Homo sapiens: one gene and its partners. The protein of the gene in region 3 interacts with the protein of the main gene of each other region in a biochemical or structural test. Each region holds a gene or a part of one and is shown on either strand. Other genes may lie near its edges. The genes, in order: SKI, PAX6 and NFIX.

Region 1 (3,817 bases), on a different chromosome or scaffold from region 3:
TCAACACTCACTTCCCCTCGAAAGCCGCCACATAGAGGGGGTATTTTCAGTGTCTTTTTTCCTGAACAGCTATTTTAGTGTCTCTGAAAAAAACCATCCACAGCCGTGAGCCTTCAGGGGCTGCCTGCCCTGCGTCCCCGGCCCTGTGCGCCCGAGCACTTATCTTTCTCCCTTGGGCCCAGGTCAGAGCCAGGCACCTGCCCCTCCCCTGGCCCCACCCTGCTTGTTCCCTGAGGGCTGCAGGGTGGGTGCACGTGCTGCAGGGGAGGCCACGGGCTTTGGCCAGATCTTCCCCCAGGGCCCTCCATCCCCATAATTGGAGCACCTTGATGGACAGCCTGCCCTGCGCCCCATCTTCCCCCTAGGGAAGCAGGGTCCCTGCTGCCTCCAGGAGGCTGGTTCCTGATGCAGCGTCTTCTCCTAGAGTCCTGGAGGTGGGAAGAGCCCCCGGCCCTGAGTGTGCTCTGTCCACCAAGGCTTCCTGGCTGAGGGCAAGGGCGGAGCCCCCACCGCCCGACTTTGCTGCCTCCTCTTGAGGTTGGCCTCGGCAGAGTGAGTGGGACCTCACCCCTGTGAAGGGCCCCTTGCCCTGTGTGGCCTGTTCTGCATTGGCCTGTGGTGTAGACCTGGTGCCAGCTGCCCTGGAGACTCTGTGCTGTCCTGTGGGGTCTTTGGCAGTAGAGGAATGGCCCATTTTACGGAGACTGCCCTGTGATTTTGCTTGGGAAGAGACCTTGGGTCTCAGTTGTGCCTTGCGGGCAGCACCGTCTCAGGGGTTTCCAGCCGCAGGGCTGTGGGAGTTCACGTTTGCCTGAGGCTGGATGTACCGGCTCAGGCCCCCAGCACACAACCCACATCACTCACTGGCTCTTGGGGGATGTGCCTCAGCACCTGACACACAACACCTGGTTCTGAGTGGGCTGGGTCCAGGCACCTTCGCTAAGCTTCCTCCACCAGCGGGACCTGGTTCTGGGTGGGCTGGGTCTGGGCACCTTCGCTAAGCTTCCTCCAGCACCGGGGCTGGCAAGGAGCGAGGCAAAGGTGTGTGTGGTGCCATCCTGTAGGAGCCAGGCTCCTTGGGGATGGTGTCCTTCATTTTGAAAATGTTTCCTTCCCATGGGGAGGGGGCAGCCAGAATGCCCACTCTTTAATGCACCTGTGCCAGTGGCCCACAGGGACACGGTGTCCCCTCCCCGCGACCACCCCTGTGCCGCAGCTGCCCTTCCCAGACGCATCCGTCGTGAGTGGCTCTCGCCGTGCTGTGGCTGGTTGAGCTGAGTGCCCAGCGCTGGGCACCCTCTGAGGACACACTCGGGTTCTAGGAAAGGGGTTTGGCAGGAGAAGGACGAGGGACTCCTGGCCAGGCTGAGCCGCTGTGGAAGGGGAGAGTGGGTCTTGGTGCTCCATCCCAAACCTGCTGCAGCCGTGGGTGAGGTCACCCGGAATGGCAGGACAAGGTCCACTCTGTTCTCTCGGAGATGACTTGTCCCTCAGCACAGCCTCCACGTGCCTGTTGCGCGTGGCCTAAGGGCCTTTATGCAAAGTGAACTTGGTCTCCTGGGGGGTGCCCTGGAATCTGCCTTCTGCGCCACTCAGGGTCGTTTGTGGCCGGAGTGCATGGGGCTCTGACTGCCATGTGCCAGCCACGGGGCTGGTGGAGGGACCCTGCCCTGGGAACCACAGGTGCCAACAAAACCTTTCATTGATCGCAGGTCTCCTCTGAGCCTCCGGCCTCCATAAGACCCAAAACAGATGACACCTCTTCCCAGTCCCCCGCGCCTTCCGAAAAGGACAAGCCGTCCAGCTGGCTGCGGACCTTGGCCGGCTCTTCCAATAAGGTGCTGTGGGGCCTGTCGGGGTCCTTGGGGTGGTGGGTACTGGGCCCTTCTCCTTGGGCAGACCCAGCGGCTGGCAGCTCCACCTGCCCGCTACTGAGGGCTGGCACCCGGCGCAGCCTCAGGGACATGAAGTGGCTTGTTTTTCTCCTGGTCACTCACACAGACAACTCTTTCTCGACAGAGCCTGGGCTGTGTTCACCCTCGCCAGCGCCTCTCTGCTTTCCGACCCTGGTCCCCCGCAGTGTCAGCGAGTGAGAAAGAGCTCTCCCCACACCTCCCGGCCCTCATCCGAGACAGGTGAGTGGGCGCCATTCACAGGTGTTTCTGATCACGGGGGAGGCTCCACGAGGGCTGTGCATGCGGACGCGCCCATGTTTCTGCAGGCTGGGTGCCCAGACCTGCCGCCTTTTGGTCAGGGCAGTCTCGGTGTTGGTTCCTTTGGCTGGCATCAGGGAGAGCACACCTAGAGCGTTCCCTGTGTTCTGGGTGGAGTCGTGGGTGGAGCCCTGTCTGCTGGGCGCAGCTTCTTGATGTGTTGGCCTGTGTCTGGCCTTCGCAAGAGACCCAGCAAGCAGAAAACGCTTACGGGTTCTTAGGGAACTGTAAGCTTGACTTGAAGATTCGGAGCTGGGAAAGTCTTTCCTGTTTAACACCTTCAGAGGGGGTGTGCGCCAGGATGTGTCTGGGTGGTGCTTGGGGACAGAGGCACCTTCCCGACACCCGCCTGCCCCTCCAGCTTCTACTCCTACAAGAGCTTTGAGACAGCCGTGGCGCCCAACGTGGCCCTCGCACCGCCGGCCCAGCAGAAGGTTGTGAGCAGCCCTCCGTGTGCCGCCGCCGTCTCCCGGGCCCCCGAGCCTCTCGCCACTTGCACCCAGCCTCGGAAGCGGAAGCTGACTGTGGACACCCCAGGAGCCCCAGAGACGCTGGCGCCCGTGGCTGCCCCAGAGGAGGACAAGGACTCGGAGGCGGAGGTGGAAGTTGAAAGCAGGGAGGAATGTACGTGTGAGTCGCTTTCTGTGCCTCCTCCCTGTGGGCTGTGGGGGTGGCACTGGCTGAGGGGGGCTGGTCGCCGGGGGTGCGTTGGTGGCCCCATGTTTCGCAGGTTCCTCCGGGAGCGGCGCGTCTCCCTGGTGTGGAGCTGCCGGGCACTTCCATGACTTTGTTTCTGTCTCTGCTTCCTCCTCAGTCACCTCCTCCTTGTCCTCGCTCTCTTCCCCGTCCTTTACCTCATCCAGCTCCGCCAAGGACCTGGGCTCCCCGGGTGCGCGTGCCCTGCCCTCGGCCGTCCCTGATGCTGCGGCCCCTGCCGACGCCCCCAGTGGGCTGGAGGCGGAGCTGGAGCACCTGCGGCAGGCACTGGAGGGCGGCCTGGACACCAAGGAAGCCAAAGAGAAGTTCCTGCATGAGGTGGTCAAGATGCGCGTGAAGCAGGAGGAGAAGCTCAGCGCAGCCCTGCAGGCCAAGCGCAGCCTCCACCAGGTGAGCGGGGCGAGTGGTGCTGGGAGGTCCAGGGCACGGGCAGTGAGCACAGCCTGCACCAGGTGAACGGGCACAGGTGGTGCCTCCTCCCTTCCTGGCTGCCCCATGCGCTCCTCTCTGCCTCCACCTCAGTGGGCCTGCCTGGGACCTTGGGGGTCCGTCTCCCAAAAGCTGCAGCCCTGGGTATGGTGAGCCCCTCAGTGTCCCCAGGCTGATGGACATCCCAGGAGGCCACTACATTTGGCTTGACCACAGCTTTCCCCATCAGGATCACACACCCTGCGTGGTGGCCCCACTGAGGAAGTAGCCATGTTTCTCTGGTATAAGGGAGGCCGGGCTATTTTTAGTGGCAGAAAGAGTTGGGAGCAGCTGCATGGAGACAGTTCCTTGCTCTGTGTGCTCCAGGAGTGGGTGTTCACGCGCTCCGCCAGCAAGACCTGGCGTCTGCAAAACACAGGCGTGAGGGGCGTGCTTACTAATGCCTGGTGTTCCAGAAG
Region 2 (3,600 bases), on a different chromosome or scaffold from region 3:
GCCCGAGGTGCCCATTGGCTGACTGTTCATGTGTGTCTGCATATGTGGGGGGGTGTAGGTATCATAACTCCGCCCATTCACCGAAGGGCTGGTGGGCAGCATGCAGGAGTATGAGGAGGTCTGGCTGGGGACTGGGGGCTGTGAGGAGAGAGGCAAACCTGTGGTTACTGAGGAACACATCACACAGCCACAGCCCCAGGCTCCCTCCTCCCGAGGAACTCTGCCAACAAGTCTGATCATTAAAGATGCCTTCACGTGAAGTACTGGAATTCCATATGATAAATCTAAGATTGGGCCTCGAGCTAGTCCTTCCACTGGCCACAGCTAGAAGAAAGCTGCCTATGTATCAAGCCTCTAAAGCACTTTAGGTTCTGACAACTGTCCAGCTAGATGGTTGCCACTATCCATAAATTAATAGGATTTTTGTCTCTAACCTCTGCTAGCATCTTTGAAGAACCTATAGCATGAGGACCTTCATCAAAACACATCCCCTCTCCCTGCAAATCTGGATTTATTTGGGAACCCTATGACCCCCAGAGCCCATATCTCAAGCTTTGGGACAGAGAGCAGTGGGAGGAGCTCTCAGTAAAGTATGGTTCAGGGACCTTGGGAACCTTTCACTGATGGGATTAAAGATTCTTTGAAGAAGCAGATCTGTAATGACCCCAAGTTAAAGTGATCAGAAGTGTTAGTAAATATAACGACCTCCATCCTGAGAATTAACCATGACTTCCTAACAGACCCAAAAGCCCAGACTGACTTATAACTAGAAAACTGTTGCTACCCTCGAACTGTTCGGAATGGCAGCACTGAGGAGGTAAACCTTTCTCCTAACAAAACGCCTCATGAGCTCTCATGGTACTATGCCATGGCAGCAAACTTGGGATGAATTAAAAGAAGTGTGTCGGGAACAAGCAGGTCAGATGATAGTACAGTATACTATCATTTCTCTTCTCTGCAAACTGGAGAAATGTTTAATTTCCAAAATCCATATGCTCAGAGAGGGAAGCATATCAGAGAAGGTCCAGAGGAAGACACCCACCATTTGTAAAATGATGATTTTGGTCAAGAGAATGAATAAATGGATAGACAATCGGGCTCACCCACTCCAAAATTCAAAGAGTAGTTTTCTCTGAAGAGTAAAGTTATTGATCATTTTGATTTTCTTTATGCTTAATGAATGCATGTACTTTTTGAATTATACAAATTATGTAATTTTTAAAAGTCAGTGTTTGAAATAGATTGATTCCCCATACCGCTCTGTATGTGGAAACAGCCCTAATATAATTGCAGCATCTACTTGTTCGTCTTATTATTTTCTCACATACACATTTTGCTATCTTCACAGAAACCTGGATGTTGTTATAATACATGAAACTGAACGAGACACTCTGTGGCCTTATTAAAGTCAGATGATGAATGCTAACATCAAGTTCAAAGAGGCAAACAGGCCTTGAGGGCCTGCCAGAATTTCAGCTTGCATTTGTTTCTAATTCCTGCAATGAGTTCCTCTAGGCAACCTGACTTCTGGAAAATTCCAACGCAGTTATAGCAACACCAACTAATGGGCTGTTAATCCCTTAATTTACATCAATTGCACTATGGCCAACAATATCCAGATGCAATAAAAATAAACATGTGAATAATTCCTCTGAAGTTGCTTATCTAGCTGCTCCTATATTAGTCTGAAGACTGTGAAACATTTATTTTGCTGTTATTTGGATTTGAAATCCAGCAAAAAATGTTCAATGGAGAATAAACAATCAGTGTAGCCCCAGAACTGTTTCCAGCAGAGGCTCATGCTGGCCAATATCGTACCATCTAATATCTCTAATTGTTGCACAAACAGGAGTTCTAGGAAAACCACTGGGAAAGGCCTACCAGAAGACAGACATTTTTCCTATCAAGAATCCATCCAGCAACAAAGGTCTAGTACAAACCATCTGCCTTATCCAACTTACATCATAAAGGGTGAACCTAGTGCAGGACCTCTAAATGTAGGGGCTAATAGATATTTGGGACAGAACTAAGAGGAGAGGCAGGCTGTCATACCAAGTGAATAGCATCAAGCTTCCCAGGCAGCTAGGAGGGCCACAAACTCGTCACACCATTCACAGCAAAGACACACTAAATTTCCAGCAAATACCTGCTATGCCTTTTCTTATTGTAGATACAGACAGAAAACTAGCATTCTCATTATATTATGTATATCTCACCATGTAAATATGAATCCCATTTCTGATCCTTTTTTCTTTCTCACTAGTTTATCACATATACCCAAAGTAATGCCCCAAATGCGTGCACAGATTCTATATTTAGCATACAAACACATTAATATAAACCCAAATTTTAAACTACTAATCTGCTATCTGATAATGTGCCAGCATTATTTCCACTTTCTGGTGCAAGGCTCCCTGGTACCCAAAACATGCCCCACCACCACCCAACATTATCAAGGTAACAGTATAATAAAAGGCAGATCAACCTGACAAAACTGGACAGATTTTTATTACTCATTTTTTTAGGGCATGAATTAATGAGTCAATCACTTAAAAGTGATGGGATTGACTGTCTCCGACTTGACTGGTCAAGCCAATCACTGTAGTGCGAAAAGCTCTCAAGGGTGCAGACACAGCCAATGAGGTCCGCAGGCCCTGAGCCACTCCTCACTTCTCTGGGGCCTGGGTTATGCAGGCCACCACCAGCCGCACTTACTTGCATAGGCAGGTTATTTGCCATGGTGAAGCTGGGCATAGGCGGCAGAGCGCTGTAGGTGTTTGTGAGGGCTGTGTCTGTTCGGCCCAACATGGAGCCAGATGTGAAGGAGGAAACTGAGGGCAAGAGAAATGACAGTAGTCAGAGTGAGAGTCAGAGCCCGGAGCAAACAGGTTTAAAGACATTGATTCGTAGTATTAGTATTTCAAATTACCCGGTGTGGTGGGTTGTGGAATTGGTTGGTAGACACTGGTGCTGAAACTACTGCTGATAGGAATATGACTAGGTGTGTTGCTGGCCTGTCTTCTCTGATTCCTCAGTTTTTCTTCTCTTCTCCATTTGGCCCTTCGATTAGAAAACCATACCTGGAAATCAGGTGGGACAGGTTAGCACTGTGTCTACGTCGAGCCCAGCCCCACCTTGGCACCTCCACTGCTGCCCTCCCCACGCCCATGGCAGCAGAGCATTTAGCAGACTGAACCTTTTTATTATATTAGTCCTATAAATAAATAGTACTCTGTACAAGCACCTCTGTCTCTAGGAAAGACAAATGGTATGAATCACAAAGTGTGAAACTGCACAGTCTCTCGGTACCTGTATTCTTGCTTCAGGTAGATCTATTTTGGCTGCTAGTCTTTCTCGGGCAAACACATCTGGATAATGGGTTCTCTCAAACTCTGAAAGAGTAAGTTGATTTTCCATATTGTGCCAGAACTACACAAAATATGTTGACCAAACTGTGCATCAAACTGGTTCCCACCTCCCCACTCCCATTACCTCCAACCAATTCCCTTTAAAATGCTTCTAGTGTTGACTGTACTTGGAAGAACTTTCCCACCAGAACCAAGTTAAATTTTCTTTGGAATGGCATTCAGTGACCTTTCT
Region 3 (3,817 bases):
GTGCAGATGTGGGGGTTCCCCACACTGCCATGGTGCTCAGGGTGCCTGCTCACACCTGCATGCACACTGCAACATGTATGCATGCCGGTGCGCCCTCGCCAACACGTACTTGGGCCTGCTTTCTACAGGAAAACCCGCTCCCTGGGCCACACACACGGCCATGCCACGCAGGCCTGCCCATGGCCGGCCCACAGGGGCTACACACAGACTCTAGATTGATTCACACTTGCATACACTCTCACCTGTGCATACAGGAGTGTGGTGTAGCCACAGCTGACACACACCCCGACAAACCCCTCGCCCCTTGACACCACTGCACACTCCCGGTAGGACCCAGACAAAGTAGGAGCCATACCCATGTGGACTGCCACTGTAAGCTGTGGACACACTTGGCACATGGCTGACAAGGATCAGGCTGGGCAGAGGGGACAATTAGGGCCTGGCCTAGAGAACCCCCACATGCAGGCCTGGCTGGCAGCAGGGCTAAGCAGCCCCTAGATGTCCCCTCTTCGGAGACTGTTACCAGCTGTGGCTTGGCCCTGCAGGCAACGCTGTCAGGGCCACTGTGGGACTCTGGGCAGCTTCTGTGCCCTCTTAGAGCCTCAGGCCACAGCCCAGGGAGAGTTGGGTGGCCCGACAGGCATCCTCGAAGCTTTTGCCGCAGCCGTGCGCCGCGCAGGGAACTTCGCTGCAGGCGGGACGCGCTCTAGCAACGCGCCAAGGTCGGCGCTGTTGTGCCCGAGGCTGACCCGACGGTGTGGCCGCAGCACTGTCGGCTGTGTCCACGGCTGCCTCCCGCCCCTCCCGCCTCCAGGCGACGGGACGGGATTCCCCAGGCCTGCCGGGTCCACTCCGCAGCAGCCCGGGTCGCTGGGGCCAGAAAGTTTGCGCCGAGGAAAGTTTGGGGGTGGGGGGGCAGAGGCTGCGACGTCCGGGGTCGGAGAGGCGCGGCCACCGCTGGCAGCGCGCCCGCCCCCCTCTCCCCTCCCCTGCCCCTCCGAAATTTGGGAGCCCCGCCATTTTCTTAGCCCCGCTCCCATGTGAGGCCTAAACAAAGACTTTGGGGAGACGCCCGGGCCGCTCGGCCCACCCCAGGCACCCCGGCCGCACGCAAGGGCCGCCGCCACGCACGCCGGCCACTGCCACCCTCGGGAACCGCTGCGCCCTCCCCAGGAAGCGTCGCGGGACCCAGTGTCCCCTCTGCGCCCTCGGGACCACCCTCTTGCCACTCTGTCAACCCCGCAAACACTGCCAGCGACCACGCTGCCCGGGTGCGCGCTACAGTAGCCCACAGGTCAGCCGGAGTCCCGCTGCCCATCGCACCCCAGTCGAGCGCGCACACACACACACACACACACACACACACGTACACGCACTCCCGCCTGCGCTCCACGGGCAGCGCCACGACGCAGCTGGCCACCCCCGGAACCCCCAAAAGGAGTCCGCCCGGTGGCCAGGGTCGCACGCGCACGGTGACGCCCGCACGCGTGCCTGGGCTCCCCGCGGCACAGCCTGCACCCCTCGGCGGCCCGCGGGCTCTCGGCCCCCCCTTCCCGGCCGCCGCGCGTCCCCTCCGCCCGCGCCGCCGGCCGGCCTCCCGCGCCCGCTCCCCTCCCCCGGTCGCGCGGGGGCGGCGGCCGGTACCTGGGTGAGGCAGTACGGGGAGTACATAGCTGGGCGCCCGGGCGGGAGCGCGGCGGCCGGCCGCGGCGAGGGGAGGCCCGGCAGGCGGCGGCCGCGCTCGGGCTCGGGCTCCGGCTCGGCTCCTCCGGCCTCCGCCGCGCTGCGCCCGCCCGGCCCGCGGCCCCGCGCTCGGCCCGGCGCCGCTCCGCGCTCGCCGCTCGCAAGCTCGGCCCCGCCGGCTCCGGGGCCGCCGCTGCCGCCGCCGCCGCCGCGCTCGCCGCTGCCTCTCGCGTCCGCCGCCGCCGCCGCTGCCGCCGCGCGTCTACTCCATGCCGCCGCCGCTCGGCCGGTCACCCTCGCCCGCCGCCGCCGCCGCCGCAGCCGCCGCGCTGTGAAAGTGAAAGTTTAGACAAAGTTTGGAAGCGGCGCACTCCGGGGAGAGGGAGCGGGCGGGCGGCGCGGGCGGGAGGAGGGGCGCGGGGAGGGGCGGGCAGGGCGGGGGAGCGGCGGCCGGCGCACACACACAAGCACACACATGCACACACACACACGAACACACGCACACGCGCGCGCGGGGGCGCACACCGACGCGGCCGCCCTGACACGTGCTGGCCCGCGTTCCAGCGCAGACACACGCTGACACGCAGCGGGACTCGGACCCCGCCACACATGTCACGTCCAGAACGCCTGGCCACACGTTCCGCCTTCGAACACAAAGCACACTCGGACACCAGTGCACACAAGGCACAGACACACAACCCCTACACACGGGCACACACACACAGCAGTCTGGGAAAACACCCACGACCCACGCTCTGACATGCACCGTCCCACCATGGTATCCAGGCACACAACAAGGAACCGCGTATAGACATACACCAAAGCAGGCGTCACGTAGACACACACTGATATACACGAAGACACACCAGTGCATGACACATAGAGATGCACACTGATGCACACACACTGACGCATGTTCCTGCAGAACACAGACACATGCAAGATCACACAGCCACACGCTGACACCTTCCAGACACACAATTCCTACACGCAGACACATACACAACACACACACATCGCAGTGCCAGAACACACTGGCAGTTGTGGCAGTACACCCCGATGTACAGAATGACACTGATGATTGAGAGGCCGAGGCCAGTGGATTGCTTGAGCTCAGGAGTTCAAGACCAGCCTGGACAACATGGCAAAACCCCTCTCTACCAAAAATACAAAAATTAGCTGGGTGTGGTGGTGGATGCCTGTGGTCCCAGCTACTTAGGAGGCTGAAGTGGGGGGATCCCTTGAGCCCGGGGAGGTCAAGGGTGCAGTGAGCCATGATAGTGCCATTGCACTCCAACCTGGGTGACAGAGCAAGACCCTGTCTGAAAAAAAATAACTAAATAAATAAGATGACACTAATGAAGGGAAGATACACAATGTCACATAAACACACACCAAACACCTGGAAGTGAATGCAAAGGACCCCAATACAAAGAGATACACAGCGTCACAGATACAAAGCAACACTGGCTGTCACAACACAACACACAGACACACACACACACACACACACTGGGTTGCCCAGATGTACCCACAGGCCTTGGACACACTGACCAACTGATGCCCAGGCGGCTGACAACCCCCCTGGGAGAATCATCTAGCCATGCACACAGGGATCACACACATACACCCATGTCCCTTACGTGCCCCCCCCCCAACACACTTGTAATGTGGCCCTGATCATCGACATAGGCAAATATAGCAGGAGACCCACAGCTCAGCTGTCAGGGACAGAATTGGGCATCAGGGCCTCCGTACATGTACACACACACACACACACTTTGGTGAGGTTCCAGCCCCTCTTGCGGGCCCTGACTCCTCATTTTCAGAACATAAAGGCCTGGGGGGAGAGGTAGTGCTGGGGACCCTGGAGCAAGGGGAGAGGAAGCCCTCTGGTAACCCTCAGGGTGGGTGGGGAGGCAGTGCCTACAGCCCCCAGGCAGCTCCTGCTGAGACAAAACACCCGCCTGCTGCCAGGTGCAACCAGCACCTTCTTGCTCTCTTGGGCCAAAAAGCTGTGGCAATTCTCAGCTATGCATTGTCTGTTAAAGGGGGTGTCAGTGCCCAGGGCGGGGGGTGCGCACGCACACAGGGTTGGCTGTGCCCATTGGGCTCTTGCAAGCAGGCACAAAAG

What was found.
Region 1: the proteins of NFIX (region 3) and SKI form a complex in vitro, tested with the Homo sapiens proteins (one study listed by BioGRID).
Region 2: the proteins of NFIX (region 3) and PAX6 form a complex in vitro, tested with the Homo sapiens proteins (one study listed by BioGRID).

What each region holds. Positions count from the first base shown.
Region 1 is NC_000001.11:2,301,266-2,305,082, forward strand, and holds part of SKI (ski oncogene), read left to right. Parts: intron 1-1,712; coding exon 1,713-1,838; intron 1,839-2,019; coding exon 2,020-2,135; intron 2,136-2,574; coding exon 2,575-2,837; coding exon of another isoform or gene 2,838-2,843; intron 2,844-3,027; coding exon 3,028-3,320; intron 3,321-3,817. UniProt on the Homo sapiens protein: May play a role in terminal differentiation of skeletal muscle cells but not in the determination of cells to the myogenic lineage. Functions as a repressor of TGF-beta signaling.
Region 2 is NC_000011.10:31,790,723-31,794,322, forward strand, and holds part of PAX6 (paired box protein Pax-6), read right to left. Parts: intron 3,393-3,600; coding exon 3,310-3,392; intron 3,081-3,309; coding exon 2,930-3,080; intron 2,832-2,929; coding exon 2,716-2,831; coding exon of another isoform or gene 2,542-2,715; exon of another isoform or gene 2,483-2,541; intron 139-2,482; coding exon 1-138. UniProt on the Homo sapiens protein: Transcription factor with important functions in the development of the eye, nose, central nervous system and pancreas. Required for the differentiation of pancreatic islet alpha cells.
Region 3 is NC_000019.10:12,993,692-12,997,508, reverse strand, and holds the start of NFIX (nuclear factor 1 X-type), read right to left. Parts: upstream 2,035-3,817; 5' UTR 1,672-2,034; coding exon 1,645-1,671; intron 1-1,644.